4 separate regions of the Homo sapiens genome follow, and regions 1, 2 and 4 are each linked to region 3. The links come from fine-mapping of genetic effects on gene expression. A gene starts in region 3. Each other region holds a variant in brackets. All regions are shown on one strand. Distances are between the middles of the regions.

Region 1 (8,141 bases), 25 kb after region 3:
AAACCTCGTCTCTACTAAAAATACAAAAATTAGCCAGGCATGGTGGTGCACACCGATAGTCCCAGCTACTTGGGAGGCTGAGGCAGGAGAATCGTTTGAACCCCAGAGGCAGAAGTTGCAATGAGCCGAGATTGCACCACTGCACTCCAGCCTAGGGGACAGAGCAAGACTCCTTCCCAAACAACAACAACAACAACAAAAAGATGTCACTAGGGCATAGGAATTTTTCAGCTCCATTATGATCATACAGGACCACCGTCATATGCGGTCATTGTGGGGTGCATGACTGTAGTTATGTAGAAGCGGCGCTATGCCCAGGACTTTCTGTTCCGCAGTCCTGGGCTCCTTCCACTATAGCAAGAGCCACCTCCATTTAGAGCACCACAACCCAGCTAGCAAACACGTGCTATGTGAGGACAGGGACCACTTAGCAATGCTGTCTGTTTCCCCTCTTTCCTGCGACAGGGCTGACTAACAGCAGGCCCTCCATACATTTACCTAACACATAGTTGCTTGCTTCCTCAAAGAGAAAACCCCTACAAGTGGATTTATGAGAGTGAGCAGCCACAGACAGCAGCAGCACGGCAAAGGTGGGAGATCTTGTTTCTTCCAGATGAAGAAACAACGTGATAAAACAACATGGCAACATTGCCTGATCTCTGGGCCTTGCAGTCAAAGAGATAATAGTCTAAGGCACTTCTCTCATCTTTGCTTGTACCTAACTGATGAATAGCTACATCCTTTGGTGGCAAAACGACATATGAAGTATAAAATAGGGGAGTAGTAAGTACATATGAGCATTTTAAATAATGTATATGAAGTATATACTAAAATGCCCCAAACTTGAATCATTCACCTCGGGGACAGGTGAGAGTTGAGAAAGGGCTTTGTTGCTAATTTCAGAGCTTTTAATATAGTCTCCTTGGTCGTAATGGAGTTATCAGATGCTTTAGAAAATTGAAATCTGTTCACTCTTTCACCTAGATTAAGTAAATCCTGGTTTTGTATCTATTTCATATTAACCAAGCATTCATTTAATATCTTCTTCTGTCATATTTAGGGACTTTCTTGGGCCCTCCTTTCCTTTGCCATCTTGCCTGTTGGTATGATGACCTAACCAGGATCAATGGATAGAACCAATTTCAATTTGTTCTGACTTTCTCATTTTTCATCTCCAGAGGAAACGGCCCCTGAGAACGCCATTGACCTTGGGGAAGAGAGCTTTGATATATTAACACATTTCCTAGAAAATGTCATTTTCCTTTTCTTTGCTCCTGACCGTTTGTCCCTTGTAATTTGCTTTTACTTACTGAAGATTATATTCCATTTGTCGGTTACGGTACCCTGTCAACCAGCAGACCAAGCCTACCCAAGATCTACTACAATTTTCTAGATTGTGGGTGGGCTTACAAAGACTCTGTCCAGGAATATGTGATTATTTTGTCTTCACACAAAAGATAGCTTCCTTAAGCAACAGTGAATGTTTCTCTCTTAGTTCCTGGTGCTGAATTCACCTCTTTGTGCTGACTGTGAAGTTTCTCCCAAAATCAACCTGGATTCCTCATTCCAAGGAACAGACGCTCAGGCTGCATTATGGCTTTTCATTTGCTATGTTTGCATACCACACATATTCAGTAAAACTGCCTCTTCTGGCCTGTTTCCATTTCTGAGTGCTACATTATTGCAGGATTTAGAAAAGTGTCTAAAAAATACACATCAGCTCTCAGTTATGTCTGTCAAACCTAACGGATGGTTTGGCTGTGTCCCCACCCAAATCTCATCTTGAATTATAGCTCCCATAATTCCCACATGTTGTGGGAGGGACCTGGTGGGAGATAATTGAATCATGGGGGTGGTTTCCCCCATACCATTCTCGTGGTAGTGAATAAGTCTCACGAGATCTGATGGGTTTATAAGAGGAAACCCCTTTCGCTTGGTTCTCATTCTCTCTTGTCTACTGCCATATAAGACGTGCCTTTCACCTTCCACTATGATTGTGAGGCCTCCCCAGCCACGTGGAACTGTGAGTGCATTAAACCTCTGTTTCTTTATAAATTACCCAGTCTTGGATACATCTTTATTAGCAGTGTGAGAACAGACTAATACACTAACCATTATAATGGGCAAAGTCATATAAGCCAAGAGGAATTGTATTAGTTTTCTTATTGTTGCTGGAACAAATTACCCCAAACTTAGTGTTTAAAACAATACAAATTTATTTTCTTATAGTTCAGGGGTCAGAAGTCCAAAATTAGCCTTACTGGGCTAAAGTCAAGGTATCAGCAGGACTAATTCCTTCTGATGGCTTTGAGGGGAAAATCCTTTTCCTTCTGTTCTCACATCTCTTACTGCCCACTCTGACCCCCTGCCTCCGTCTTCTAAGGCAATTATGTTAGCCCCATCCAGATAATCCAAGATAAACCTCCCCATCTCAAGACCCTTAGCTTAATCCCATCTGCAAAGTCTCTGTCATATAAGATAACAGTCACAGGTTCTGGGGATGAGGAAATTGACATCTTTGGGGATCATTGTTCAGCTGACCACAGGACCGAGACCTCCCTATTCAGTGACAGTTTTCTGTGGCCTTTCCTCTTGAGGTCAGGCTGCTTTGGTGGGGGAGGGATGTTTGTGGGTGGGCTTGCCCATGCCCTTCAGAGACCCCATGCCTGACTCCGTGCCTCCTGCACCTGCAGTAGCAGCCAGATTTCAGCTGCCTCCCCAGGGCAGTCAGAGGTGTCACAGTGGTGCCCAAGGGCCATGCCACTGTGCCCAAGATGTTTGCCAACTACCCTTCCTCAACTCTGTCTTCTTTCCTTTTTAGCATTGTGTTAGTGCCGGGAGGCCACTGTGTCAGCAAGCTGAGAGGGAAACTGAAGCAAGATGTCGGGCCGGAGTGGGAAGAAGAAAATGTCCAAGCTGTCCCGTTCAGCTAGGGCAGGTGTCATCTTTCCAGTGGGGAGGCTGATGCGTTATCTGAAGAAAGGGACGTTCAAGTACCGGATCAGCGTGGGCGCCCCTGTCTACATGGCGGCAGTCATTGAGTACCTGGCAGGTAATGAGGACACGCAAAGGAGGCTGCCTGCTCCCAGGTCCCCACCCTCCCCTGGGTCCCCCTCGCAGGCTGGGGAGGGATGCTCCAAATTGCCTTTTGGCTGGCTCAAGGCTACTGTGGGTGGTGACAGGGTTGCAACTGGCCTGCTTGGCTAAAATCAACTTCTGCAGACTTTAGGGGAGAGAAGAGGGTATAGGAAGGACAGGTGATCAGCATGGAAGGCGGAGAACCCACAATCAAGTAAGTGGCCCTCCTAGACCAGTCCTGCAAAAGATATGTCTTGCTTTAAGCGAATGCAATATATAAATATCTAAGCTCCTGAAGAAAATAAACTGCAGGGAGAATGGGGGATTTGATATTCATTTTGTAAAAGGGAGTCTTTTTACATCAAATTGCTCATTAAACATTAGTTTTCCTGGTATATTTAAACTGGGACTCAGGGTCCATAAATAACATTTATCGCATCATTAAAAGCATCTTTCAGGTGCTGGCATGAAGCCGATGTAATGTTCTAATTTTGCTCTCCTTCACTGAGGTGATTCTCGTCTAATAGGGGTGCACAGAAAATAGTTTCCCATATTTGTTGTTAAAGTTAATTTTTTTACTGAAAGATGAGATTTTGCTGTGTGTGTTCTTTATCTTAGTAACTTTCTCTTTAGCTTTTTTGTTGTTGTTCTCTTATGTCATAGTTAAATAGAAACCAAACTTTACAATATCAGGGGTGCTTTTCAGAAGTATTTACAAATAAAATATATAAATATATATGTACAATAAGTATGATTTAGTCCCTTGTTGGGTAATAGCCACGAGCAACAATGTCTCTGACTTTGCCCAAGGTTAACAAATTCCCTAGACACCAAGGTTAAGTTCCTTGGAAATTCTGCCAGGTTAAAAAGCAAACCTCCCCAGATGGTCTAACACTGGGGAGGCAAGCCTCACTGCATGAAATCCTCTGGGCTGTGGCAGGGCTGGTCCTCTCTTCTGTCCCCAGATTCCTCTTTTCTGCTGGTTTTTCCTCTTTAGATGCTCAGTCCTGCCCTGCCCTCTTAGTCCCCATCGCCCACCAACCAACATTTATTGGTGAAAGGTTTTCCTTGATCCACGGATCCAAGGAGGAAATGTCCTCCCCCGAGAGCTTCCACCAGGCAGACCTCTGCATCATGA[GCCTT/G]CCTTCCTCTTATGAAATGAAAGCCTTCCTCCTGAGCTAAAAGTCCTTCCCTCCTTTAGGAGGTTGGGGAGAGCTGGAGGGCTCTGAAAAGCAGTTCTTTTCCAAGTGGGGTCACGCAGGGATCTTGTTGACAAGGGCAGGGTGGCACCTGAGACTCCATTCCTCAAACTCCCAGGTGATAATGATGCTGCTGGTCCAGGGACCACATGTTGAATAGCAAGATTGTAGCCAGCCTTTTAACCTCAAGCCAAAAGATGTGGGGAATGCTTGTTTCAAATGCAAGTTCCCGCCAGGCACAGTGGCTCACACCTGTAATCCCAGCACTTTGGGAAGCTGAGGCGGGTGGATCACCTGAGGTCAGGAGTTCGAGACCAGCCTGGCCAATATGGTGACACCCCATCTCTACTAAAAATACAAAAATTAGCCAGGCGTGATGGCAGCTACTGGGATTACAGGCCGGTAATCCCAGCTACTTGGGAGGCTGAGGCAGGAGAATCACTTGAACCCAGGAGTTGGAGGTTGCAGTGAGCTGAGATCACACCACTGCACTCCAGCCTAGGTGACAGAGCGAGACTCCGTCTCAAAAAATAAAGGCCGGGCACAGTGGCTCACGCCTGTAATCCCAGCACTTGGGAGGCCGAGGCGGGCAGATCACGAGGTCAGGAGATCGAGACCATCCTAGCTAACACGGTGAAACCCCATCTCTACTAAAAAATAATAATAATACAAAAATAAAAATAAAAAATAAAATGCAAGTTCCTAGATATACTCTCAAAGGGTCTGATTCACTGGATCTGGAGTGAGGCCAAGGAATCTGATGGGAAAACCTCCCAGCTGAGACAGGGAGAGAACAGACTTTGAGAAGAGTTTATGAGGCTTTAAAACAACCTGTTAGGTGTGTGTCACCCACTGGGACTGGAAGACACTGAGTTAACTGCAAGATCCCACAGCTTCCAGATGGGGAACTAGGACTCCCTCACGCCCTCGACCTCAAGCCACGCAGTTTTGCTGCCCTACACTACCCCAATATTTGTGTGATGAAAATAACTAAGTACTTCCTGTGCCTCCGTTTGGCAAAAGTCTAATCCGTGCATATACAAAATTTGGCCTTTGGAATCCCCAGCATCTCTGTTAGTCTTTGGTTCAGATGTGTGAGATAAACGAAGCTTACCTCTTCCTGTTCGTTCATCCATTCAAAGAGCATTTGTTGAGCATCTCCACGTCAGCACACACAGTAAGTCCTTAGGCAGAGTTCCCGCAATAGAATTGGGCCATTTATACAGTGGGTTGAACATGGAGAGGATGAGCACCTGCAAGGGTGCCATTGCCAAAGTCCTCCTGCCCCCGGCCAGTCCCAGTGTCCAGACCATCCTGGGCCACGTGGAGGAGGAGAAGGTGACATTGGTCTCCTGAGGCCCAGGCCTGTCCTCTGTGTCCTTTCCCTCCCTTCTTTGTGCCCTTTCTCTCCCCCAAAGGCAGGCAGGCACTGAGTGCAGGCTCAGATGTCGGTTCCAATCGGGATGACTCATTGACCAGCTCTGTTACCTTAACCTCTCTGAGCTCCAGGTGTTTCCAGAACTAACTCTTTTAACCTCATTCAATGAGCTAATATGTGTAAAACACCTGGCGTATAGGATGCACTCAATAAATGCTAATTCTTCTCCTCCCCCCTCTATTAAGAGCTGACAAAATCATTCAGGACAAAGTATAAATGACTAATTCCATTAAGGTGTTGTATTTTCAGGCTGAATTTGCATTTTAATGAGACAAGGTGTTTTAATCCAAGGGAATGAATCATATTAGTGGAATTGCAAGCTACTGTTGAGTAAATGACATGGGGGATTTTAGTCTGTTTTTTGGTTTGTTTGTTTTTTAAAGAGGTATCCATTGATTCTGTTTAGGGAAGGGGGGTCAAAGTGTGGAAGCCTCCTGTCACCCTTGAAATGACTTCCACATTCATGAAACAAATCTAGACTGAGTGCCTCATTTGAATCAGGTCTTGAAGATACAGCAGAAAACCAGCTAACTTGGTCCTTCCCATTGCTGGACTTAGAGCCTAGTGAGGAGGACAAGAAGGAAACGCCTCACAATAAGATCAGGTGCTGTCGGGCAGGGAATGAGAGGAACTTCGGGAACTGCGGGTTGGGGGAAGGGCTGCCTAATCTAACAGAAGTGTTGTTAAGACCTAAACCAGGTTGTCAACCCTGCATTTTCTCGTATCGATTGATTTCAAATCCTGATGCCTGGGTCCCACCCCCGAGACTCTGGGGTATTTTCTGTGCATCAGGATTCTTAAAAGCTCCCCCAAATGATTCTGATGGGCAGCCAGGTGGGGAAGGGAGTCAGCCAGATTCAGACTGGGGGGGCGGGTGAACTAGGGGAAGATAGTAAGGGAGGTGGGGAGTAAGGGAGAAGACTCCAAGTTTAAAAGAGTGTGTGGCCCTTTCTAATGTGCCGAGAGCAGAGCTTGGAAATGGGAGGAGTGAGAGATGAAATGGGGGCAGGGCAGCAGGCGCTAGACTGTGACGGCCCTTGAAGGCCACGTTGAGGGTTCGCGCGCGCGCGCGCACACACACACACACACACACACACACACACACACACACACGGCAGAGGAGGCATCAAAGAGAGGTGGCAGCATCTGCAAGGCATCACTCTGGCTTTAGGTAGAGATCAGTTGTCAAGGAGCAAGATCAGATTCCAGGAGACCAGTGGAGTTGTTTTAGTGTCACTTTGTGAAGAACTGACAGTGGCCAGGACCAAGGGTGCACAGTGGGGATGGTGAGAAGAAATGGAAAATCTGGGAGCTTTCTGGAGGGCGGAGTCAGCTCCACTCCATAATGGATTGGATCCACAGGGAGGGGCATCAAGGATGATATGAATCTTGTAGGTATGGACTAGCTACTTTCTCTCAGGCCACACTGCCATGGGGTGAGAAGTAGATTGAGGTGTGGACTTGGAGACAAAAGGAGTAGGGAATGGGTAAAAGAAGTCTGACCAGCTGGACGTGGTGGCTCACGCCTGTAATCCCAACACTTTGGGATGCAGAAGCGGGCAGATCACCTGAGGTCAGGAGTTCGAGACCAGCCTGACCAACATGGAGAAACCCCATCTCTAATAAAAATACAAAATTAGCCGGACGTGATGGTGCATGCCTGTTATCCCAGCTACTCGTGAGGCTGAGGCAGGAGAATCACTTGAACCCAGGAGGCGGAGGTTGTGGTGAGCCGAGATCGCGTCATTGCACTCCAGCCTGGGCATCAAGAGCAAAACTCCATCTCAAAAAAAAAAAAAAGAGTCTTGCCGAGAGGAAGGAGAAGAGAGAGCAAAGCAGCTAGTGGATGGAGAATGGTGCCTGTACCTGAAGTAGGGAGCAATGGATGAGAACCAGGCTGCAGCAGGAGGGGCTCAGTTTGGGACCTGTTGAGCTTTGGTGTCTATAAGATGTCCAAGAGGGCTGGGCAGAGTGGCTCATGCCTGTAATCCGAACACTTTGGGAGGCCAAAGTAGGAGGACCACTTGAGTCCAGGAGTTCCAGACCAGCTTGGGCAAGATGGTGAGACCTCGTCTCTACAAGAAATTAAAAAATTAACCAGGTGTGTGCTGGGCACGGTGGCTCAAACCTGTAATTCCAGCACTTTGGGAGATCAAGGCGAGTGGATCACCTGAGGTCAGGAGTTCAAGACTAGCCTGACCAACATGATGAAACCCCATCTCTACTAAAAATACAAAAATAAGCCGGGCATGGTGGTGCATGCCTGTAATCATCCCAGCTACTTGGGAAGCTGAGGCAGAAGAATCACTTTAACCCGGGAGGTGGAGGTTGCAGTGAGCCAAGATCACACCATTGCACTCCAGCCTGGGGAACAACAGTGAAACTCCATCTCAAAAAAAAAAAAAAAAAAAAAAAAAAAACCTAAC
Region 2 (8,000 bases), 37 kb after region 3:
GATTTGGGGACTGATTTTGCTTTACCTGTGAAGCCCCCAGGTGAGGCTATCTGGGTGATATCATGGGAGGGCTGGAGGTGCAGATTCAGTAGTACAGACGGGTGGGTAGAAGCTGGAGCCATGAGTCCAGTGGGGTTTTACCCAGAAGATTGCATGGCCCTAGCAGAGCAGAAGGCACAGACAGAACCCCAGGGACACTGCCAAGCAGTGGGCAAGTGGACAAGGAAGAAAGGGCCTGGCAAGGAGACAGAGTCTTGCTCACTCCACCTCACCTGTCCCAACCCTATAATTAATGTGCTATTTCCCATCTTCTGTGGGCTGGAATATCCACTGTTGGTTTAAATTGTATACAAAATGAAGGGACATAGACTCTTCCAAAATAATGTGTATGAGCTTTACAGCATCCCTTTTGGCTAAAGAAATTCTTTTTACTGCTAGATACTCAGCTGTATTCCAGATGGTTACTATTGCTAGAAGTGTGACTTGTGAGAAGTGAGGGATTTGCCATAGAAGTCCCCACCACTTAACAGAATTATGATCTTCCCACAACATTTGCAGTAGAGTAAATTTAGTGCTGTATAAATCCAGTTTTCCTATTGATTGCCAATATAAGGATTTGGCAGGATTAATAAAATCCCCAAGATCAATAAAGTCACTCAAGAATGTAACAAACTTTTATAGTTCATGGGACTATATTTGCCATAATAACATTTGAAACTATTAATGATGATTAATGTTTTTCTTGTTTCATTTGCTTTGAATTTTTTTTTTTTTAGAGGCAGGGTCTCCTCTGTCACCCAGGCTGGAGTGCAGTGGCACTATCACAGCTCACTGCAGCCTTGGAACTCCTGAGCTCAAATGATCCTCCCACCCCAGCCTCCCAAAGTGCTGGGGTTATAGGCATGAGCCCTGTGCCTGGCTAATGATTAATGTTATTACAAATATTTAAATGGTGAAGTCCATGTCTCAAGGATGTCCAGACTAAACATCCAAAAGAGATAAGAACTATTTGATGTAGATTTTCTGTGATGTATTATCTTTTTCTCTCTAAGGAAAAAAAAAAAAAAAAGTCCCACCACTGCTTTTGCACTAGAACACATAATCAAGATTTTCTTTCTTATAGATTGTTTCAAAAGAGTTTTTTAAGAGCCCAGTTGCATGATCCCCAAGCATCATCTGCATTCCCTGAATTGTGCTGCATGCTGAGTCTCTGCCTTCAGTCTCGTCCTATGCTACGTTTGATTCCGGCAGATTATTTTGTCTGTGAATGTCTGTGCATCTGTCTGTCAAGCTGAAAATAACCTGACCTTCATGGGCTTCCTGAAGACTCCAAATATGTAGTGCTTCCCATGGCCCTGCCTCTTATTGCTGACAGTTAATTTGATGAACTTGGGGAGGGCGCTTAATTTCTCCCTCTAAATGCAGGTAACAGGAGAGAGGAAAGTAATGATCCAGGATGCTAAATTCAATTCAGTTGCTCAGAAGCTTAAAATTGGGAGGCTCATTAACCCCCAGACCCATCTAGAAAAAGGGATGAGTGGAGTGCTTCTTCCTCCCATGTGTACCCCAGAAATGAGAGTCCCTTGAGATGAGCAGGGGCAGCACACTTCCCTTCACTGTGCACAATGGAGAGCTGCACATTTTAACCCAGAGCCATAAAGCAAGCCTGCCGGGAACAGCGGCTCACGCCTGGAAATCCCAACACTTTGGGAAGCTGAGGTAGGAGGACCACTTAAGCCCAGGAGTTTGAGACCAGCCTGGACAACAAAGTAAAACCCTGTCTCTACAAAAAAATTAAAAATTAGCCTGGCATGGTGGCACAAGCCTGTGGTCCCAGCTACTGAGGCGGCTGATGGGGGAGGATCACTTGAGTCCAGGAGGTTAAGGCTGCAGTGAGCCATCACTGCACTCCAGCCTGGGTGACAGAGGTGAGATCCTGTCTCCAAAAATAAAGTCTATTTGAAAGCCTTATAATTCCATTTTCTTTTCTTTCTTCTTTTTTTTTTTTTTTTAAACAGAATCTCACTATGTCACCCAGGCTGGAGTGCGGTGGCCCAGTCTCGGCTCACTGCAGCCTCCACTCCCAGGTTCAAGTGATTCTCCTGCCTCAGCCTCCCAAGTAGCTGGGATTATAGGCGCACGCCACCAAGCCTGGCTAATTTTTGTATTTTTAGTAGAGACGGGGTTTCACCATGTTGGCCAGTCTGGTCTCGAACTCCTGACCTCAAGGGATCCACCCATCTCTGCCTCCCAAATTGCAGGGATTACAGGCATCAGCCACCATGCCTGGCCACTCCATTTCCTTTTAATGGGCATCCTTTTGAAGAGAAAGCAAGGATTGGGCAACAGCCTGAAAGCACAAGCCTGCTTATCTAATACAGCATTAATTTCATTTTTCCAGTATAATCCATGGGTTCACAGACAGCATTAATTTCAAATACCCTATCCCACTGTCCCGACACGCATGCTCACACTCCTCAAATTTTAGTGCCCCAATCTTTGATTCAGAAAACACGGTCACTGCATAAATGAATTGTTGGCAAACACAATATTCATTGCTTAATAATCTGGAAAAGATGTGAGAATGAATTTGCGGTGATTCAGCACTTTTCTTTATGGAAATGCCTATGAATATTTAACTGTAATGTTTATTTTATTCTAATTTTTTGTTAATCACATGTGCTTAGTTAATACAGCATACTTATGTCAAGTTTTTGTGATTGCCGTAGATTTTATGAATGATGGCAATTTCATGTGCTCTTTTATTTGAAATTAGATTGATTGCAAAGACTCATACAAAGTCATCTGTTAATTTTAGGGCTTAGTATTTGTGCCATTGTATCAGCATATCCTCCCAGCACATACCCACATGCACACGCACACATATGCCCGCCTGCACACTCACACACACACAGTACATTCACGCACACACACGCACACATATGCCCGCCTGCACACTCACACACACACAGTACATTCACGCACACACACACGCACATATGCCCGCCTGCACACTCACACACACACAGTACATTCACGCACACGCACACATGCACACTTTCCCCCCTCATTATCAGTGAGACAACAACACATTGGCACATTCCTTCTAGCTTTCTAAGGGAAGGAATTTTTCTTTAAAGGCTCATTCATACTTTGGAAGGCAAATTTGATTTAGCAGAACATCCTTCTAAAATTGAGGAAGAAAGAAAAATAACGAAATAAAACAGAAGAGGAAGGGGGAAAGCATATAGATAGTAGAAACCAATTCTACAGATTTCTTTTTTTACCCCAAGGTTTTAATAGCATGGGAAATAGCTTTAGGAAAATTTCTTCTTATCAATGTTTTCACATTGGCCAAGTGGCGTGTTTGTTAAAGTCAGCCATGCTAAAGTTTTGGGAAGTATGTGGAAGACCCCCAGGCTCTATGTGCTTTCCTACGCAGGTCTCCTGGCATTCCCTTTAGGAATTCACTTTTCGGGTTAACCATTTCCTCATCCCAGAGTGTAAGTCAGTCCTTCCATCCACTTTTCTTTTAGGACAGGGAGGACCTAGGGCATTGAGCAAAGAGGAAAAGGAGAGTCAACCAGGCGCAGTGGCTCAGGCCTGTAATCCCAGCACTTTGGGAGGCCCAGGCGGGTGGATCACCTGAGGTCAGGAGTTCGAGTCCAGCCTGGCCAACATGGTGAAACCTCATCTCTACTAAAAATACAAAAATTAGCCAGGTGTGGTGGTGTGCGCCTGTAATCCCAGCTACTCAGGAGGCTGAGGCAGGAGAATTGCTTGAACCCAGGAGGCGGAGGTTGCAGTGAGCCAAGATCATGCCACTGCACTCCAGCCTGGGCAACAGAACGAGCAAGACTCCGTCTCAACAAAAAAGAAAAAGACAGTCTAAGAGAAGTCCAAGTGGGCACCCAGAACAGACTTTACCTACATCACTATTCTCTTCAGAGATGGCCCTGTGCCCCACAGACTGAGAGGAATTTAGGTTCTATAGCAGGATTCTGTATTGGTCAGGATTCACTTCTATAGACAGTGGCTTCAACAAGAGAGTTTATTTCACTCTCATACAAAAGAAGTCTAGAAAAGACAGTCTAGATTGGTAGAGACTCAGTTTCCTTCTGTGCTCTTGCTCTAGCATGCACAACTTCTTCTTCTTGGTCAAAGATGGCTGCCCAAATTCCAGCCATCGTGTCCTCAGCCCACCATTAGAAAGGAAAGAAGGGCACAGCCCCTTCATTGATGGACACTTCCCAGAAGGACCAGAAAACACAATGGCTTGCCTTCTTTGGCCAAATATTGGTCACAGAACCACACTTATCAAGGGAAATATAGTTTTCCTGCAGTTATGGGCTTGGCAAAAAAAATCAGAAGTCCTGTACCAAGGAAGAAGAGGAAGAGGGAGAACTGATGCTGAGGGACAACCAGGAGGCTTTGCCACAGGATCGGATAACATCTTGCTAAAATAGCTTACTTCTCTGTGACCTGACTTATTTTTTCTTTTTTTAAATTTTTTAATTTTTTTAAATTTTTTTTTTAGAGACAGGGTCTCACTCTGTTGCCCAGGCTGGGGTGCAGTGGCACAATCATAGCTCACTGCAGCCTTGAACTCCTGGCTGGGCTCAAGCGATCCTCCTGCCTCGGCCTCCTGAGTAGCTGGGACTAACTTGAGTTCTCTTACGCTTCCTGGATTTCTTTCCAGGCCGAGACATAGAAATCACAAATGAATGAATGTGATCAAACTTGAAGGCCATTTCTAAAGAAAAGCTTTAGCTCAGACCCCATTCTGTGATTGCCTGTTAATGCCTCCTTGTGATTTCAGCGGAAATTCTAGAATTGGCCGGCAATGCCGCGAGGGACAACAAGAAGGCCCGGATAGCCCCGAGACACATCTTGCTGGCAGTTGCCAATGACGAGGAGCTCAACCAGGTATGTCTGAAGC[C/A]TTGAGGGAAGCCGTAGAATGGGTTTGCCAAACATGCTAATGTGTGGGCCTGGCTGGCCATGAGTCACTCCTGCTACAGTTCCCAATTACATTTATACAAAAAAAACTCAGGCCATATAAAAGAACAAATTCTGCTAGCTCTTATCATTCAGATTCAAAATAAAATTGCCTCTGGCATAGATCTCATTATATATTCTAGGTCTTATCAGACCTTTCTTTTCTCTTTGAAGACAAGTTCTGTGTGTTGCTGAGGAAGGTGTGGCACAAATGTTATTCTCTTCACTTTCTTCACCCAAACTTAGTTGACAGTTTTTTCTGATGAAGGCAGAAGACTCTTTATATTTTAGAACTGACTGTTTATATTCTGAAACTGACTCCAAAGTCAAGCGAATACCCCCTTTTCACCTACAGTATATGTAAGGTGGTAGGTAAATAGTATAAGAATTTTTATTTCTGTTTCTTTTCATTTATCTTTATTTTCTAATCTCACTCTTCTCAAACTGTAGTGAAGAAGCCATTTTTATGGCCAATCCATCATGGACTGATAATTTCCAGAAATGTAATAAAAATCACTAGAAAAATTAAAAAGCAAACTACAAGCCATAATTTTTTGTTATCAGATTCAACAGATATACAATAACTGTCAGTTTGCTGTGAAAGTTTCTAGATGCTTGCTATACTTCTGTTGTCACTGACGGGTAACTACCAGTTCATGGGTGAGCCATGGTCGCAGACCATGCTTGGGGTAGTGTTGGTTTCGAATCTGCAGAATATATTAGTGGAGTAGTACGTGTCTGTTCTTTGCAGATAAATTAACTTATATTGATTGGGAGGAGCATGGCCAGACATACTTTACTGATGGAATGTATGTGCAAGCTTGTGGAGACCACTGGTTCATCATTAACTGGGTCTAGTCTTTGCAATGACCTTTGAACATCATTTTCTCAAGCTGCGCTCCCCACATGGGAAGCTTTTTATCCTGTGTTGTGTCTGGAATTCCAGAGCCCTGGGCAACATCCCTGGTTTCAACTTCTGTGTCCCTTCTATTTTGCTTTACTTCGTTTTGCTTTCTGTACAACATCACAGGATGCCTTGTTAACCTACGGAGAAATGCTCTACAACTGAAAGTGGGAAAAGCCAATTAAATGGTGTATTACGCAGTTTCTTTAGGAAAGCGGAGGCCACATTTAACAGTTAGAACCGTATTAAGTCCAGGCCAGGCACAGTGGCCCACGCCTGTAATCCCAGCACTTTGGGAGGCCAAGGCAGGTGGATCACCTGAGGTCAGCCGTTCGAGACCAGCCTGGCCAACGTGGTGAAACCCTGTCTCTACTAAAAATACAAAAATTAGCCGGGGTGGTGGCAGGTGCCTGTAATCCCAGCTGCTCAGGAGGCTGAGGTAAGAGAATTGCTTGAACCTGGAGGCGGAGGCTGCAGTGAGCCAAGATCGCGCCACTGCACTCCAGCCTGGGTGACAGAGTAAGATTCTGTATCAAAAAAAAAAAAAAAAAAGAACTGTATGAAATTGGGAACTAGCAGGCTGTTTGCTACATGAGCGCATGCATTTCTCTCTTCAGCTGCTAAAAGGAGTGACCATCGCCAGTGGAGGCGTCCTGCCCAGAATTCACCCCGAACTGCTGGCCAAAAAGCGAGGGACCAAAGGCAAGTCGGAAACGATCCTCTCCCCACCCCCAGAGAAAAGAGGCAGGAAGGCCACGTCAGGCAAGAAGGGGGGGAAGAAATCCAAGGCTGCCAAACCACGGACGTCCAAAAAGGTAGGCCGAGGCTGCGTGTCCTGGGCCAGGCACTCCCACTGCAATGGTCTGAATGTCTGTGTTCCCCCACAATTCATATGTTGAAACCTAACCCCAGAGGCATAGGATTACAAGGTGTGGGCTTTGAGAGATAACTAGATCATGAGGGCGAGTCCTCACGAATGGGAACAGTCCCCTTATAAAAGAGGCCTGAGGGAGGCAGAGGGACCCTTCTGCCATGTGAGGACACAGCTAGAAAGCGTCATCTACCAGGAAGTGAGCCCTTGCCAGACACAGAACCTGCCTGCGCCAAGGACTTCCTGCCTCCGGAACTATGAGAAACAAGTTTCTGGGCCAGGCACAGTGGCTCATGCCTGTAATCCCAACACTTTGGGAGGCCGAGGCAGGAGGATGGCTTGAGCCTAGGAGTTAGAGGCTGCAGTGAGCCATGATGGCACCACTGCACTCGAGCCTCGGTGACAGCGCAAGACCCTGTCTCTTAAACAAACAAAAAAAAAAGAAAGTGGTTTCTGTTGTTTGTGAGCCAGCCAGTCTATAGCATTTTGTTAGAGCAGCCCAGGCAGACACTAAGACGCTCACAGAACAGGAGGGAAGTTTAAAGATGAGACAATGACTTCGTAGCAGACACCTCTGAAGGACCGAGGACTCTTGCAGCTTGGTGCCGGAAGAAAATGACAAGAATGTACAGGTAAAAGAATAAAGGGCCTTTGAGGTTAGAGCTGAAATGGGTCTTCTCTAGGTTTCCAAACCCTAAGCAGGGATGGTTTTCAGATCCCTTTTACTACCCCCAGCAAAATCTGAAGTGAGCGATGATAGCCAGGAACCTGCATTTTATTTCTCTGCAGAGCTCTGTGTTGCCTTCCAAACAGCCTCTAGTCTCCTGCAGGCATTCCCTGAGTTCCGCCAGTGGAATTTCAGGTGTTTGGCATATACTTGATATACTAGGTGTTTGGGTTAGCTTGATATACTAGGTAGCTTAGCTCAGAGATGCCACTGATAGAATAATGTTTTCCTATGTTGCCCAGTACAGTAACCACTGGTCACATGTGGCTTTTTTTTTTTAAGAGACAGGGGTCTCACTCTGTCACCCAGGCTGGAGTACAGTAATGCAGTGGCGAGATCATAGCTCACTGTAGCCTCAAACTCCTGGGCTCAAGCGACCCTCCTGCCTCAGCCTCCCAAAGCATTGGAATTATAAGTGTGAGCTAAGGCACACAAGCCAAGGCTATTTGGATTTGAATTAAAACTAAATCAAATTTAAAATTCAGCTCCTTGATTGTACCAGC
Region 3 (8,141 bases):
TTAATGAGGGCCATCCATGGTGCCTAGAGATAAAGTAGCCATGGTCATTCAAGAGTGATTCGTCCCCTTGTCCTCCAGAAAATAATCAAAGGCTTGAGATCAACCCCATGGGCCTATATCTACCCAATCAGAACAGTGAGTTATCACAGAGCCACAGCTCTATGAATGCTTTACTTGGATATTTTTTTCCAGAAGGAACATGTTTCTCACACAGCAATCTTAATAAATGCAAGTGGGCTCCATTTCTTGGCTTTGAGGTAATGAAAAATTAATTACCATACTTTACAAGTAATAGATTCCACTCACAGCACTCCTTTAGAAGTAAATATATCATAAATAGTTACTATTATACCAATGGTTGGTGGATTGGGCAGCCTGTCGTCCATAAATCTTTTTTCAACAGACATGTTATTTCTTCTGGGGGAACAAACAGATTTGTTTTAGATCAGAGAGTCAACTGACAGATGGCCTTTGTAAAAACACACCATTTGTATAAATAAATTATAGTTTCACTATGGTATTCTGCATTTGTGGATTTGGAAAATCAATGCCCCCATTCTCCAGACTGGGCCTAAACTGTAAAGAGCAATTTTGTTTAGGTGTGAGGTCACATTGCACAGATCTGCCAACACAGATGCTAAAGTCCAAACTCTCTGGATACTTGCTGCCACTTCTCATCACAATTGTCACAAAGAACTCTGCCTGGAGGTAACAGGATGATCTCCCAGAAAGCTCCGTAACCGATCAGAGCAAGTTACCAACTGGCACACTCCCCTTAGCTCTGGGCTCTGTTTCCATTAAACGTAATGATACCACGTGCCTTATTTTCCTAACCACAACTTTGCATAATTGGGACTGACAGTGTATTTGTCTTAAAAAGCTGAAACACTTCATTTTCTTTTACAATATAGTTCATCAGTTAAACGCTAAACATTCGGTAGATTTCTTTAAAATCCAAACCAGCCCTAACTCTGAGCACACTGGAATCTCAGTCATTACTCATCTTACAAGGTATACACATGTAACATATGCATCAAATATTTGATTCATATATAAATGTACATATCTAAATATGCATCTATACACACACATACCTACTCATGCAAATCCCCTTTCCCAGAACCAAAGGGTCAAGACTTAGTATCAAAAAAGACATAGTTTGTCACTGTTTTTAAGAACCAGGACTAGTAAAATGTTTCTTTTGCTAGGAGACCAAGACATTCATTTTAGCCAGAAATTATAAGCATAGTCTTTGTTGGCCTAATGATTGCCTGCGTGTCCTTTTTTTTTTAAGGATATTATTCCCCCTCCACACATGATTAAGATCCTAAAGTCATCAGTCGTGATCAAGGAAATAAAAGTTTAACACCAATCATGTTCACTATTCAAAATATAAAAACAGGAAAGACTTTGTAAGTTTCCAGCTTAAACAAAAATTTATGTGTCAAATTGTCCAGTATTTTCCTAGCTACAACGTACTTTTGGACGCTGTGTTTATTCTTTCACAGGGTGGGATACTGTTAGCCTGGTGCTTTGTCTGCATTCATAACCTCAAGCTCCCACATTGTTATTTAGAGTTATACCAGTTGGTGTCTTGATAAAATTAATACAGTGTCTAGAGTTCCTAACTTACATCCAAAGAAGTGCATAAACCAATGATTTCCATCTGTTTCTATGACACTCCCAGGGAATCTCAGGTTACTTCAAAGGAGATCAGAAATTCCCAAATAAAATTAATTTAGATCTACAAATCTTACGCATATACTTACATATGCCAGATATAAATATATACCTACATGCACATAGGTAAATTCTGGAAGATGCAAAGTCAGGAAATTACTAAGGTAATTGCATATTAAGATCCTAGGAGGGTAAAATGATCACAAATTATAATATGTATCGTAAACTGATTAGAACTAATCATGAAAAATAAAAGTCCACTCAGTTTACACAAAATCACAAATTTGGATCAAGAAAAAGGGTTTGGGGGGTAAATCAATGAAGCTATTTTTGAAGTAGATGATTTTGTGGATGAATTACTAGCAACCCAATAGGATACAAATCTGGTTGGATGACTGATTCATTTGATTCTTTTTTTTTTTTCATCTCTAAATTATGCTACATGCCTCTCTCTAAATGGAGAAGTGCTTCATCCTGCATCTCAATAAAATTATTAAAGACATGTTTGCTGTAATGGAGTCAACTCACAATCAATACCTGTATTCATAATATTATGCACACATACAGGTCAAGGGTTAAGAAAATGTTTTCAGTGCAACTGTAATCAACCAACCCTCCTGTAATTAGGCTGTTTGCTGACTCCTTAGGGACATTTATTGGGAGGGGCCCAAGGGCCCCTCTTAGACTCAGATCATGTGACTGAGTGCAAAATTCCTTTGCTTAAAACAAATGCACTTCTCCACCTTCAGATTAAGGCAGTGATTAAGAGCATGGATCTGCCACTTCCTAACTCTATAACTGTGGGAAAGTTTCTCATCCACTCCCTGCCTCAGTCTGTAAAAAGGAGAAAATAGTGCTTGCCCCATACAAGTGTTGAAAGGATTAAATAAGTTAGGATAAAGTGCTTAGTACAGTGCACATAGTAAACATTCAATAAGTGTAAGCTCTTATCATTCTTTATTATTCAACTTGTCAGAGGTTCCCCGAGCTAGAGACCACTGCGGAACTCTAGATTACTTATCAACTTATGATCATGTTGACTTTTTAAAATGTATTTTAATTTTATATAATATTATATGATACTATCTCAGTGTTAAATTTTTATGTGTTAAATGTTCGGTATTAAACACACATAATTCAACTAGATCTGCATATTAAGTGGCATATTTGTCCCCTATACATCCTGAAAAGTTTGGAATTGGCGGAAACTGCATTGACTGGGTATCTGGACATGCATTGGAGGATCTCCCACTAATGTCCTGCGAGGCCATGGCTGAGTCATTTCACCCTTCCAAATACCAGATTTCTTCCTATAGCAAAGGTTTCCACTAGGTGAACTCTAAGAACCCTTTTATCCTAAGAATCAGAGTATTTTGAAGCTGACCTCTTCCTTGATTTTCTGAGTTGTGACAGCATCATCTGTCTGAAGAAACCAACCAGTATGAAATGGGAGAATCCTAACCAGTAAATTTACTAGATCCAGCCTCTCTCAGGATAGCACATAACAAAATGCTAGAATGAACTGTTATATAAAATTCACATAAAAATGACCACATATGCCACTTTTATTGGGAAATTACAAGGAGAATGTGAATCTAATATCTACTGATGAATTATTCAACTATATTTCAGTCAGCCTGGCTGACTGGATGACAGAGTATGAGTATTTTTCAAGCACTCATAGAAAACTCCTGAACTCTCTTGAATGTTGGCTTGATGGTTATTTCTGGTGAAGAATGGACACCTGAAGGTATAAGAAGAGAGACCCTTTCTTTAGGAATGGGAAAGGACATCATTATGGGATGCCCCAGGGGATCATTTGAAACCCTTTAAATATACATCTTGGGGAAAGAAGACTTTATCCTGACTGGATATCTGACCTGGAAAATACCTTCCAAGACAAAGAACAGTGAGGTCATACACAGAGGGCGTGAAAGGCTTAGGAAAAGAGTAAAGGAAGCCCCAAGAAACAGAGACTGTTGAGTCCAGGGGAGTTTGAGAAGCCATAGGAGACTGAAATAGAGGCTTATGCATATGTTGATGATATATGCGTGATTTGGAGGAAGTCAGAGAGAAACATGGCTGATTTCTCAGCAAATACACTTTAAAATGCACATGTTCTAAACCTAACCCGCTATCTATAAACGCCAGCAATAGCCATGATTAACTAACTAGTAGAGACGCAGAGGGTGGTAGGCATGAGTTCTTCCCACTCAGGCACTGGGAGGCTTTCAGTCACTCCAAAGTCCCCACTGCCTAAATAGTTACAAGTTTGTAGTAGCAAATATACACAATATTACCAAATGTAACAGCTTTAAAAATCAGCCATTTGGCCAAGGCTGGAGAATTCTGTTTGCACCGGTTTCTCTTTTTGGAAGGGATCAAAATGTTGCCTCTCACAGTCCTTTGACTGTAGGAGAAATCAGAGGAAACCTGGATGGTCCACAGCAAGTTAGTATTTCCCACTGAAATAAACACATTCTTTTGACTCCCCTCCAGCCATGGAGCCCTGGCCAACAACTCACAATACAAAGCCGAGACTGGCTTCCACTAGGAACACAGCAACTGCTAATCCCCATTATCACACCCGACAGTGTCCACCACACCCCCATAAAGATGCATTTTCTAGTAACTAATAAAAACTGGTCCTGAAGACAATAGCCTCGCGCTCATCTAAATACCCGTTGGGATATTGCAAATTAACACCTTGTAAAGCAACCCAATTAAAAATTATGCCCATACACACAGTCTCACCCACCAAAACATACATCTGCCTCTCCAAATATTATGCAACGCTGGATTCTAAATCGGTCTTAATTTCTAAAAAGCCTACAGGCACGGATATAAATTCTCAGCTCTCGTGGCTGTGGCCGCCCTATGCACTCTTCCCAGTGGTGGACACAAACGTTAATGTACTTGTTATTATTTAAGGACACAAAAATATAGAAGGTGGCATTTTTCGCTTTCCCCTTCGAAGACTCTCCCCAGAGCTGCCAGATGAACGCCCACGCCACCTTCTCCCACCAAAGGTGGATCCAGCTAACAGGAGACTGGATCGCGACCATAGCGCGTTTGTGCCCAGTTCTGGGGAAAGCCTCATGTTAGCGAGTGGCCCTCGGCTCGTCTCGCAGATCGGCCAAGTACGCGGAGGCCGCGCGGTTTCACCATTAATACTCCTGAAGGACAATAGCTCATCAAGCCCCACCGAAAGCCCCGGACCCGTCGCGGAGCCTGGGCTGGCGGGGGATGAGGCTGAGCAACTCCTCCTAGAGGTGGTTATGTGGAGAAGGAGCAATCCCTTCTCCCTCCTCCTCCTCCCCCCGCTACTATCCGCGGCCCAGAGAACTGCCGCTTGCCGCCATTGACACGCACAGATAGAACCCAAAGAAAGGCAAAGAGTCCTGCCCGGCACCGGCGCCGCGTGGGCCAAACCTGCGCCCGTGGAGGGGCGCGCAGAGGGCACCGGGCGCCGGGAGCAGGCGGCGCAGCACCAGGTGAGCCCGCCATGGCGATGGCATTATTGTTTAGGGTGCTCCGGGGTCTGGAAACAAAACGCGCCGCCGGGGCAGTGCAGGGGCCGGAGAGAACCACCTCTGCCTCTCCCCCGAGCCCCTGCGGGCGCACCCTCGATAGCCGACCCACCCTCTGCAAAAACAAATTCTTAAATCCAGCTGCCCAACTTGCTTCCTTGGGCGATAAAGGGGGGGCTGCTAAAGAAGTGGTCAAATTCCTGCGGCCAGCGAGGGGCCGGGGGCGTCGAGGGTACTGAGAGGGGAAGGAGGAGGGATGCGAGGTTCAGCAGCGGGCCCCAGGCGAGGCTGGACCCGGAGGAAGCGGAGGTCTCCTGGGAATGCGGAGTTTCGGGCGCAGGAGCGGGAGGACGGAGGCGCCCGGCCGCCGATGGGCACGGGGCGATGGGTGGGGGGCTGCGCAGGGCCCGAGGGAGCCCGGGGAGGGCCGCTCGGGGGCCTCTGAAGGTGCCCGGGCAGGGCGCCGGCGGCTCCAGGCTGACAATGGAGGGGGCGCGGAGCAGCCGGGCGGAGGTTAGGGACCCGAGTCCGGGGGCGGGCCGCGCCGGGGAAGGTCAGGTCGGGGACGCCGGGTGGCGGGGCGAGGGCTGGGGGTTGCTGCGCGGACACCCGGGCGCCGCGGGCGGGCGTGCGCCCCGGGGCCGGCGCGGAAGAGGGCGCGAGGCCGGGCACTCCCCTTCGGTTCCCTTTCCGGGGCGCCCGGTGCCGACGCGCGCTGCGCTTTCACCGGGAAATGGCGGCCCGGCCGTGGCTCGCCTGGGCAGTCTGGCTCCCGCTTTGCGCGGGAAAAAATAATAATAATAAAAATATCGAAAAAGGGAATAAAAGTAAACTGGCTGCGGCGCAGGAAAGGGCTCTGCCGGGCGCCGGACGCCGTGCGTATCGCTCGCGGGGCGCGGCGGTTGGGGACCAGCCCTGCCTCCCCCGGCTCCCAGCCTCCAGCCCCGGCGCACCTCAGCCCCAGCCCGGCCAGCCCCCCGGATCGCCCGTGGGTGTCCTCCCCCGCCTTTCCTTGGGGGGGCGCCCTCAGTTCTTGCCCTCTTTGTTCCTTACAACAATGGCCAAAGGGGCATTGGTTCCCCAAGGGCCAAACGAGCTTCCTCCAGGAGTTTCCCGTCGCGTGCAGTGGACCACCGTGGGCCTGACTGAGGCCTGGTCCTTGCCAGGGTTTTTTGGCAACGGCCCTGGATGAGTGAAGGGATGAAAGGCGCGAGAAGAAATGGGCTGAGAAACCAAAGTGCGGGGCCCTGAGTGTTTGAGGGGACGCGATGGGAACCGTGGCTCCGCTGCCCTGATTTTAAGGGCAGTTACCCTGTCACAGCCACGCTGGAACTGAGGTGTCCTTCCAGCTTCTGTCCACCTCAGAGGAATTCAAAACAAGGGCCCAGTTCTAAGCCCCACAGACCCCAGGATCCCCTAGGGGCCATTAGTCCACCGCGGCAAATGGTTTCCTCACTTTGCTCATTTGTGTTTGTTTTGAAATCCAATTGTCACCTCACTGGGCTGCACAGTTGCTACTGAAACGGTTCAATAGGTGAGAGAAAAAGAAAACATTATTAAGAGCGAGAACGTGTCTTCGTGTGTGTTGTTTTGAACCACAAACTAAGCTACACATAATTCTCAATCCGTTTTAACACACTTTTTATTTTCAAACTAAATGTTAAGAGCTCCAAGATTTGGAAACATACTGGTGATTTTTAGAATTGTTTTAGCCTAAAATTACATATAAATAAATAGAGGCACTGCCCGGCGGAAAAGTTTATCTTGAGTCGCATAATTCACATCTTCATAACCCCTCTTTCCTGTAGCCAAATTTCCTTTTAAAACATGCCCAGTTCTCCTCTTCTCTGGTTTTTCCTATCCTACCACAGTTACACCTCACCTGGATCCATTAATTGTCAGACTTTACACATTATTAGTGGTTTCCTCTATATCAAAACTGCGTAAAAGAATTTACCTCCTTGAATCCGGAGTGTCCCTGTGATTCTGACCCTACTCCCTCACCATTCCATCTTCTGTCTGGTTCCCAGGATTTTTAAAGCGCCTCTGGTCTGCCATTTCCCAGTGGGTGGGACACCCTGCTAGCTATTGTCTGAGACAACCACATCTGTTTTCACTGCCTCCTGCCAGCAGAACAGGAGGTGAGTCCTGTCTTAGGCAACTTTAAATGAAAGGTATCTGTAACTTGTTACCGGGGAGGGATGTGCAAAAATTCAGCCAACTTTCTTAAGAATGTTTTTCAACCTTAAGAAATAACCTCCAAGTTAGATGCAGTCTTGGTAAATGGAAAGTATATTGCACAGAGATTAACAAAGAACTTGTGGTTAGAGATCATTCAACAAACACTTATTGAGCACCAAGTCTTTTGTTGTTTGTTTTGTTGTTGTTTTGAGATGGGGGTCTCGCTATATTGCTCAGACTGGTCTCGAAATCCTGGGTTCAAGGGGTCCTCCCATCTCAGCCTCCTGAGTATACACCAATTCTTAAACACCTCTAGATAGGGAAAGAAATGAAATATAAGGAAGTCATTGGGCCCTTCTCTCATAAAGCTTACAACCCCAAGCCTAGGAGATAAAATATACATGCAGGTAAAACAAGGTAAAAAGTGATTTTGGCAAGCTAGTGGGAAAACAGGTACTTTCATATACTGCTGACTGGTGTGTAAATTGATATAACCAATTGGAAGAGCAGTTTGGCACTATAAAATTAATAATGCACACATTCTGTGACTCACCATTCCATTTCTCAGTATGTCACCCAAAGAAGCAGGCATCCGTGAGCTCAGCATGTATAAGGATGTTCATTGCAATTTTGGTCATTCTGAAGTAGAAAACAGCCTAACAGCCATCAACAGGGAATGGCTAAATAAACTCTGGTGCATCTGTCTTCTGGAATATTAGGCAGCAGTTCAAAAGAATGAAGCAGATCTAT
Region 4 (8,141 bases), 51 kb after region 3:
ATCTCTTTCTTATTTCTTTGCAATTCATTTGTTGAGGAAGCTGGGCCATTTGTCCTATAGGGTTTCATGCAGTCCGGATTTTGTTGATTATATCCTCCTGGCATCATAAAACATGTTTCTTTGCTTTTTTATAACTTGGTGGTTGGATCTAGAGGTTTCATGAGGTGTAGGTTCGAAAACTTTGCCAAGACTCCTTGGTCAGTGGCGAGTGCTCGTGCCCGAGGAGGCGCGTCGTGCCTGGTTGTCTGTATTGGTGTGATGCTGGTGGCCATTGATGCCTCTTCTCTAGATTCCGCCATTCGTTAGGAGTTGCAAAGCTGTGGTATTCTCATTCTAGCATTGCTCCTTTCCTTCTTGGGAATGCTTCTGTAGAGAGAAACTACCTCTCTCCAGGATGCTTTTTTCTTAAAAGGCTTCAGTGAGGAGGGTGGATTCCCCTTGCCTTCTGCACATTCCCATTTGGCCCTTGACCTGAATGCAGAGGGCGCCAGTGTAGACCTAGTCCTCTGCTTCTCAACATGAACTGGCTACCAGCTTCAGTTACCCGGCCTTCTCCAGGCTTCTGGACCCAATAGATCAACAGTGTCCAGGAATCTGGGGGCCAGAAAGGAGTCTCAGGGGTACTGGGTATAATGCACAATCACCATTTCTCAGTTGCATCATGGAAACCCAAGAACATTAACAAAGAAAACCCCTCTGCACGCCCTCCCCCAGTGGACAGTGACCACTGGAATAGACACTTGTCCTAAACCAGCTGCACAGTGTACTGTGGCTGTCCACATATACTTGAGGCTCGAGTGTGGAGTGGGGAAGCATCAGCACCCAGGCCCTGGGAAAGACCATGAACTGAACCATAATAATAATGATGATTCATAAAGAGATTGCTGAGACTTGCTGCAGACATCCAGATCACCAAGTTCATTCGAAGATGAAAACATCTGAAAAATGCCTCCTCTGCTGCCCCAAAGCTGCCGTCATCCCAGTCTGGACAAAACACCCATGTCATCTCAGAGACATGAGAGCTGGATGCGCTGGTGCACACCGACAGGGTTCCTGTGGGGTCAGAGGTGGTGTCCTGTCATCTCCCAGGGGTTCCACTTGGCCTGTGTAGAAGTAAGAGCTGAGGTAGGAAAAAAAAGAAAGAGTGGGGCATTCCCCTAACATCAAAGGCTCAGGGCATCTCCCGGCAGGAAAGTCCTTAGAGATTAGCCTCTCTGCATTTCTCCATTGCAAACTGAGCACCGGGTTGGGGGAACAACATGCCAGGCTGCCCTGGGCCTCTGTCTGTCCTTTGACTCAAGCACGTACAGTACGTTGATGGCACTGTGATGGGACCAGGACTTCAGAGCTCTCCACATGAGTACTAAACCTGTGGGACACAACACTAGAATCACAGTTTTTTGTTGTTTTGTTTTTAAATCATCTACAAGACTCAAGCCATGAGACCGCTTTATGGCCAAATCACCCCTTAAAATATCCTTGGTAAAAGCTTGCCAATCTAAGTCTGCTAGACTGAGGCCCAGAGTCCCCTGCCTCCCCTGACCACTGGCAAACCAGGATAACAATTGGGAAGTTCAATTCCTAGTTTCTAACAGTGCTTTTGTTTTCTCCTGGCCTACTACAAATATGTCAAACAGTGTAATTAGATTGAAAGAACAACCACAGTGGCTTCCCATTGCTCTCCTTTGCAGGTAAAGCCTTGGAAAAGGCTGGGGGAAAAGAGTTCTTGGAAACGGTAAAGGAGCTTCGCAAATCCCAAGGCCCTTTGGAAGTCGCCGAAGGTAAGTGTGGAACTAGGCTCCTGTCACCAGCATGGCCTCACCCTCCTCTCTGGAGTCTCCAGCCTCACGTGCCTCATGCCTATTCAGCTTATGAGTCAAAGTATGCCATAACTAATCAGAAAGCTGTTTTAGCATCTCAGGTAATTTGGGCAGGCCCATAGAGATCCTTTCAGATGTCCTGGGGACTCCAATATGTTTGAATAATTCAAGTCAGTTTGCATCAGATCCCCCAAAATGGTCTAGAGCCATTGGGTGAACTTTGCATGTGTGTGATAAAATACACACACCATAGGACTTACCACTGGAACTATGTTTTGTTCTTTTTTTTTTTTTTTTTGAGAAAGAGTCTCACTCTGTCGCCCAGGCTGGAGTGTAGTGGCATGATCTCAGCTCACTGCAACCTCTGCCTCCCAAGTTCAAACGATTCTTGTGCCTTAGCCTCCCGAGTTGCTGGAATTACAGGCGCATGCCACCATGCCTGGCTAGTGTTTGTATTTTTAGTAGAGATGGGGTTTTGCCATGTTGGCCAGGCTGGTCTCAAAGTCCTAACCTCAAGTGATCCACCCGCCTTGGCCTCCCAAAGTGCTGGGATTACAGACATGAGCCACCACACCCGGCCACTGGAACTATTTTAAAGCGTATAATTCAGTGGCATTAAGTACTTTTACAGTGTCGTGCAGCCATCACCACCACCTAGTCCAGAGCTTTGATATCACCTCACACAGAAACCCTGTTGGGTTGATCGGACTCAACACCAGGTCATGGGGGTGACAAAGTCCAGCGGAGTCAAAGGAATGAGAAAAGATAGTTTGAGAGAGAAAGTGGGTCCAGGGGGCTGTCACTAATGTGTGGCGGTTGTGAAGGCCCCGAGCTCTGGAAGCCCAGGCTATTTATTGGTGATCAAACAAAGAAACAGGTGATGAGGATGTGGGGGTCGAAAGGGCAAGCGCATGATCTACAGCTGTGACAGTTTAGCATTTCCTTTGAAGCATTTGGAACATATTCTGCTACTTGAGATAATGGAGAGCAGGTTCTTTTAACTCAAGATACAATCGATCCTGGGAGAGCAAGGAGCAAGAAGCCAGCAAGTCTAGACACATTCAGAGCCACGAGCCCTGGATTCTATCCAAGCCACGAGGGGTTTTATGCCCTGGGCTTAGATTATGGTGTGTCAGGGTGGCCTTCCACCCTTTGGCACAGAGCTTGGTGTTCCAAAGGCCACAAGGCGTTTTCGAATCTGGACCCCGGACATGTTCCAAGACTCTTTTACATTACGTCAGACATGCAAGCCCTGCCTCAGCTTCTCTCAACACTTAGCTTTTCCCCCAACAAACCCCCTAACCATTAAGCAGTCATGCCCAGT[GC/G]CCCCCTCAGGCCCTGGCAAGCACTAATCTACTTTCTGTCTCTACGGATTTGCCTATTCTGGACATTTCATATAAATGGGATCATGCAATATATGACTTTTCTGTCTGGCTTCTCTCACTTAACATTTTTTTCAAAGTTCATCCATACTGTAGCATGGGTCAGTACTTATTCCTTTTCATGGCTGAATAATATTCCATTTTGTTTAACCGTTCATTTACTGATGGACATTTGGGCTGTTTCCGCCTTTGGTGATTGTGAATAGAGCTGCAGTGAACATCTGTGCACAAGTTTTTTTTAAACATCTCTTGTCCAGGATATTGGGCAACTTTTTGACAGGTGGATTCAACCTCAGATCCATGTTCCCACCCACATGACTCCCAATCAGTTCACTCCTTGTACCCTCAGTCAGTGCCAAGTGCCGCAGGGCTTCAGAGGAAAATAAAACCCACCGCTGCCCTCAGATGCATAATTGGGGCACAGAGCAGGAGCCACGACCTCAGCGTAGGGGAGCGTGGGAGGACTGCAGTGAGGCTGTGAGACCCCTTGGGGGTGGGACACAGAGGGCAATAGGAGCACTGCATGCAAGAAGACGCTTGTCTTGCATGAGCAGGGAGTCTTGGGTCAGCACGTGGGAGGAGAGAAACAGCAGCCAAGATGAGTCTGGGCCTGTGGGCTGTGCGAAGGGGTCTGGATCTGACCCTACATGGACATGAGGGCACTTGGAAGTTTAAGCAGGGGGCTGTCCAGATTAGACTTGATTGTTATAAAAGTAGGGCCCAGGTACTGTGGCTCATGCGTGTAATCCCAGCACTTTGGGAGGCTGAGGCAGGCGGATCACGAGGACAGGAGTTCAAGACCGGTTTGACCAACATGGTGAAACCCCGTCTCTACTAAAAATACAAAAATTAGCCAGGCATGGTGGCGCATGCCTGTAATCCCAAGCTACTCAGAGGCTGAAGCAGGAGAATCACTTGAACCTGGGAAGTGGAGGTTGCAGTGAGCCAAGATCGTGCCACTGCACTCCAGCCTGGGCAACAGAGAAAGATTCTGTCTCAAAAAAAAAAGAAAAAAGAAGAAAAGAAAAAAGTAATGGGGGCTTCTAGTCCAGAAAGAACAAGAGCCCACACTTTAAATCTCCACCCACTACTCCCCACAGGCAAAGCAGTAATAGATGCAGTGTCTCTTTAAAAACCCTAAGAGCCACACTCAAATATAAGATAAGCCTCCATGTAGACAGAGACAGGAGGGCTGCAGCAGCACCTGCAGGATGCTGCCGCCCCAGGCCTCGGCTCCAGGTCTATAAGATGCAGAGTCGCTTCACTTTGTATCAGAGTATAAAGAGGGCCAGAGCCAGACTCACTGCCCAAAGCAAGGGGCTGCATGAGACTCTCGCGGCCTTTACAAGAAGCCAAAGCTCTCGCCACCACCCAGGGCTACAACTTCTATAAAAATCTGTCTTTCTAGGGTAGCAGAAGGGAGAAGAGAGCCCCTCACCCAAGCCCAGGGCCACATTGCCCACCGACTCAATGTTTGGCTCTACCACATCCCCGATATAACCATGAGACCAAGCCCCAACTCAGTCATCTAAGACGGCATCAGGACTGGGGGCCTGGGTGTGGGGAAGGTTCCCCAGAAACTGCCTGATAGGGTGCAAAGGAGAGGAAAAATAGCTGCTCTGCACAGAATGAGAAGCTCCAACACACTTCTTTTTTAAATTATTTTTTAAATAGAGATGGGTTCTTGCTGTGTTGCCCAGGCTGATCTTGAACTGCTGGGCTTAAGTGATCCTCCTGCCTCAGCCTCCCAAAATGCTAGGATTACAGGTGGGAGCCACCGTGCCCAGCACCAACACACTTCTAAACAGAGTTCCAAAGGCAGAAATAGAAAGTAGAAAAGCATTATTTAAGGAGATCGTAGCTGAGAATTTTCTAGGATGAAGCATGAGCCCTTAAGCTGAAAATATCAAGCAAAATACATGAAAATAAATCCAAAACCTGGAGTGTTGTGGTAAAGCCTTAGAAATTGAAAAATCAAAAGAAACCTTCAAAGTAACCCGAGAGGAGAGGCAGATCATTTGTAAAGAAATGATGGCTCTTCTACTGACAGCAGACTTCTCATCAGCAAAAAAAAAGATGTGTGGAAACAGGAAAGAAATACCTTCAAAGCACTGAAGGGAAAAAAAAAACTGTCAACCAAGAATTCCACATTTTGCTACGTTGTCATTCAAGAATGAGGACAAAAGATGTACAATTTCAGACGTGCAGAAGTTGAGAGGCAGCAATCCAGACACTAGCTGGAAAGAATACAAAAGTCTGCACCAAGGAAATAGACATGAACCTGGAAGGAAGGAGAGGGCTACAGGACACAATTTTGAGCTAAGACATTGGTGCAAATATGTTAGGTGTAAGAAGCCATGGCCTGGGGCCAGTGAGTGTTAGCACCCTGGGAAAAATGGAGAAGGGGAGATGGTTCGCCACTGTCTAACACCACACTGCATTTCATTTAAAAACACCATCAGTTGTTAAGATATACTCTTATTGTATGTAACATTAAGAAAAAATAAATTTCCAAAATAAAGTGTCTAATAGGAGGCCCCACATAAAGCTGGGGCACATTAGTATAACAGCAAGCAAGACATGAACCCACCACGCAGAAAGGAGGAGCAAATATCTTGACCTTGGCATCCAGTGGACAGAGAGGAAAAAAAAAAAAAAAGCCTCACTAAAGAATTTGGCCAGGCATGGTGGCTCACGCCTGTAATCGAAGCACTTTGAGAGGCAGAGGCGGGTGGCTCACCTGAGGTCGGGAGTTTGAGACCAGCCTGACCAACATGGAGAAACCCTGTCTAGTAAAAATACAAAAATTAGCTGGGCGTGGTGGTGGGTGCCTGTAATCCCAGCTACTTGGGAGGCTGAGGCAGGAGAATCACTTGAACCCAGAAGGCAGAGGTTGCAGTGAGCCGAGATCACGCTATTGCACTCCAGCCTGGGTGGCAAGAGTGAAACTCTGTGTCTAAAAAACAGAAAAAGAATTTGAACCGCAAGCCAGTGCTCCTGAAGATTTGCAGCCAGATCCAGTGCAGCTCAAAACCTGAGGCAGAGAAGAGAGTGAGACATAGCCTTAGTTTGGTAGTGTCCCCAGGTGACATAGAAGGAAATGTAATTTCTTTCTGGAAGAACTCAGCTCCAGGCTGACAGCAGTTCTAAGATGCTTCCTGATTTCAACAATATTAAAATATTTAAACAAAAAAAAAGTGCATCTTAACATGGTTAAAACAGACCAACTGCAGTGCAGGCCCACCCTGTGGCAGGGGGTCGGGGAGGGTGGATCAAGAAAATATTTCAGGTGCAGAGTCAGTGAGAGGCAGCGATGCTGCATGTTCAGGGAGGCAGAAGCTGGAGCTAAGGTAAGTCCAGGGTTTCCAGGGCTGAGCAAACTGATGAAAAGTCAGGACTTTCATTCATTTGTTGAATATTGGAGCACCTGCCTGCCAGTGACTGTGGCAGGAGCCAGGCAGCAGCAAGGAATACAAAAGTGCTTCAGTGAAGATGTCAGCTGGGGCAGAACCAGTTCACGTTAAGCATCTACGGTGTGTGCTGTCGGGCGCAGGCATCAGGATGTGGATGTGATTGTAGGCCCTGAACACTCCTGAATTTTACAACCAGGCGGGGACCCCAGGGTAACACAGTACATCACTTAGCACAGCTGGCTGCTGAATTGCATGGCAGAGGCCCGGAGAGAATGGGCGAGGGAGTCAGGGACAAAGGAGGATAGCCAAGTGTGGAGACAGAGGTGCAGCCAGACCCATGTGTGCAGGGGACTGAGCCCACTGGCTGGAGGACGACTGGGCATCCAGAAAGAGCAAGAAATGGATAGACTCCAAGGGGAGAGGGGCCGACCATGAAGGGAGCCTGGGAGGACTGCAGTAAGGCCAGGGGGCAATCAGGAGCAGTTGCAGATTCTGAGTTTAAATGTGGAGTTTAAGGACCTTGGCTCCAGCAACCGTGTGGAGGATGGTTTGGCAGACAGAGGGCTGGGGCCCGAAGACCATCAAGAAAGCTGTATTGGATGAGGGTGGGGGTGGAGTGGGGGTGAAAATGAAGCACATGGGCCTGAAATGAGACAAGGCAGAGGAAACTGATGGTGTCTGCAGTGACAAAGAGGGAAAAAGGGGAATCGGGTTTCAGGAGTGAATGGCCATTTTACTGGGCACGTGTTAGCCCTGGGGCCCCAGAAAGGTCATGAGGTGCAGGTCCCTGTTGAAAGCTAAGGAGGAAAATGGCTTGCAGATGGCTGCTTAGGAGGTGGGGCTGCAGCAGAGAGAAGAGCACTGGGCCCAGACACGCAGGAAGAAGAGAGGCCATTGTGGGAAACTGAGGTGCTGTTAAAAGAAAACCCACAGTGTCACGGAAACCAGGCATCAGCAGTAGCAGCCTCTCAGCAGGACAAGGGGCCAACCTAGAGTCCCCTTTTGCTGTGGTGACTCCCAAGAACTGTGATGGCTCACCTGGGGGAAGGTTCTAGAAGCTCCCAGCAGCAGCACTGCCACCCTCAGAATGCAGGTCTTCACCAGGCAACATCACATTAGGTAAGAGAATGCCCCTAGTCATTATGTGGATAGGTGCTTATACCAAATACCAGGGTCACAGCCCTTGCAATAACTTGACCCTCATCCTTGACAACTCTGGAGAACATTACAAAGCATTATGGCTACAAGCTGTGTTATTCATTTCCAGTTGCCATGAACATACTTTGTTTTGGACTGAAATGTCATCGTGCACTACCCTGAAAGTCATTTTTTACTTGATTGGATGTTTGACATTGCCAATAGGAACATATTCCTTTTATTTAAAAATGACTTTTGGCTGGGTGCAGTATAATCCTAGCACTTTGGGAGGCCGAGGTGGGTGGATCACTTGAGGTCAGGAGTTCAAGACCAACCTGGCCAACATGGTGAAACCCCATCTCTACTAAAAATACAAAAAATTAGCCGGG

Which allele goes with the higher level. Positions count from the first base shown, and alleles are read on the strand shown. Sizes are in standard deviations (SD) of each study's normalised expression. Not every link is listed here.
In carriers of allele GC in region 4, the expression in tibial nerve of the gene that starts at base 5,020 in region 3 tends to be lower than with G alone (small effect, 0.19 SD a copy in GTEx).

Evidence for each region. PIP is the estimated chance that this variant, and not a neighbour inherited with it, causes the effect. A credible set is the group of variants that fine-mapping cannot tell apart.
Region 1: its variant is the best candidate, but not a certain one, in a credible set for the expression of MACROH2A2 in whole blood (INTERVAL, PIP 0.56).
Region 2: its variant is the best candidate, but not a certain one, in a credible set for the expression of MACROH2A2 in unexposed skin (GTEx, PIP 0.72).
Region 4: its variant is the best candidate, but not a certain one, in a credible set for the expression of MACROH2A2 in tibial nerve (GTEx, PIP 0.50).

The regions. Positions count from the first base shown.
Region 1 is chr10:70,072,779-70,080,919 of GRCh38, forward strand. MACROH2A2 (macroH2A.2 histone) reads left to right here. Exons shown (of 9, transcript NM_018649.3): 2 at 2,822-3,052. The coding sequence starts at 2,881. Among named protein-coding and RNA genes, the nearest start is that of MACROH2A2, 24 kb to the left of the region's middle. The variant GCCTT/G (reference allele first, on the strand shown) is at 4,217.
Region 2 is chr10:70,085,241-70,093,240 of GRCh38, forward strand. MACROH2A2 (macroH2A.2 histone) reads left to right here. Exons shown (of 9, transcript NM_018649.3): 3 at 4,820-4,926; 4 at 6,517-6,714. Among named protein-coding and RNA genes, the nearest start is that of MACROH2A2, 36 kb to the left of the region's middle. RefSeq lists an enhancer at 5,798-5,942 and a cis regulatory region at 5,863-5,876. The variant C/A (reference allele first, on the strand shown) is at 4,940.
Region 3 is chr10:70,047,827-70,055,967 of GRCh38, forward strand. MACROH2A2 (macroH2A.2 histone) reads left to right here and starts at 5,020. Exons shown (of 9, transcript NM_018649.3): 1 at 5,020-5,174.
Region 4 is chr10:70,098,517-70,106,657 of GRCh38, forward strand. It overlaps MACROH2A2 (macroH2A.2 histone), which reads left to right. Exons shown (of 9, transcript NM_018649.3): 7 at 1,692-1,781. Among named protein-coding and RNA genes, the nearest start is that of AIFM2, 30 kb to the right of the region's middle. The variant GC/G (reference allele first, on the strand shown) is at 3,145.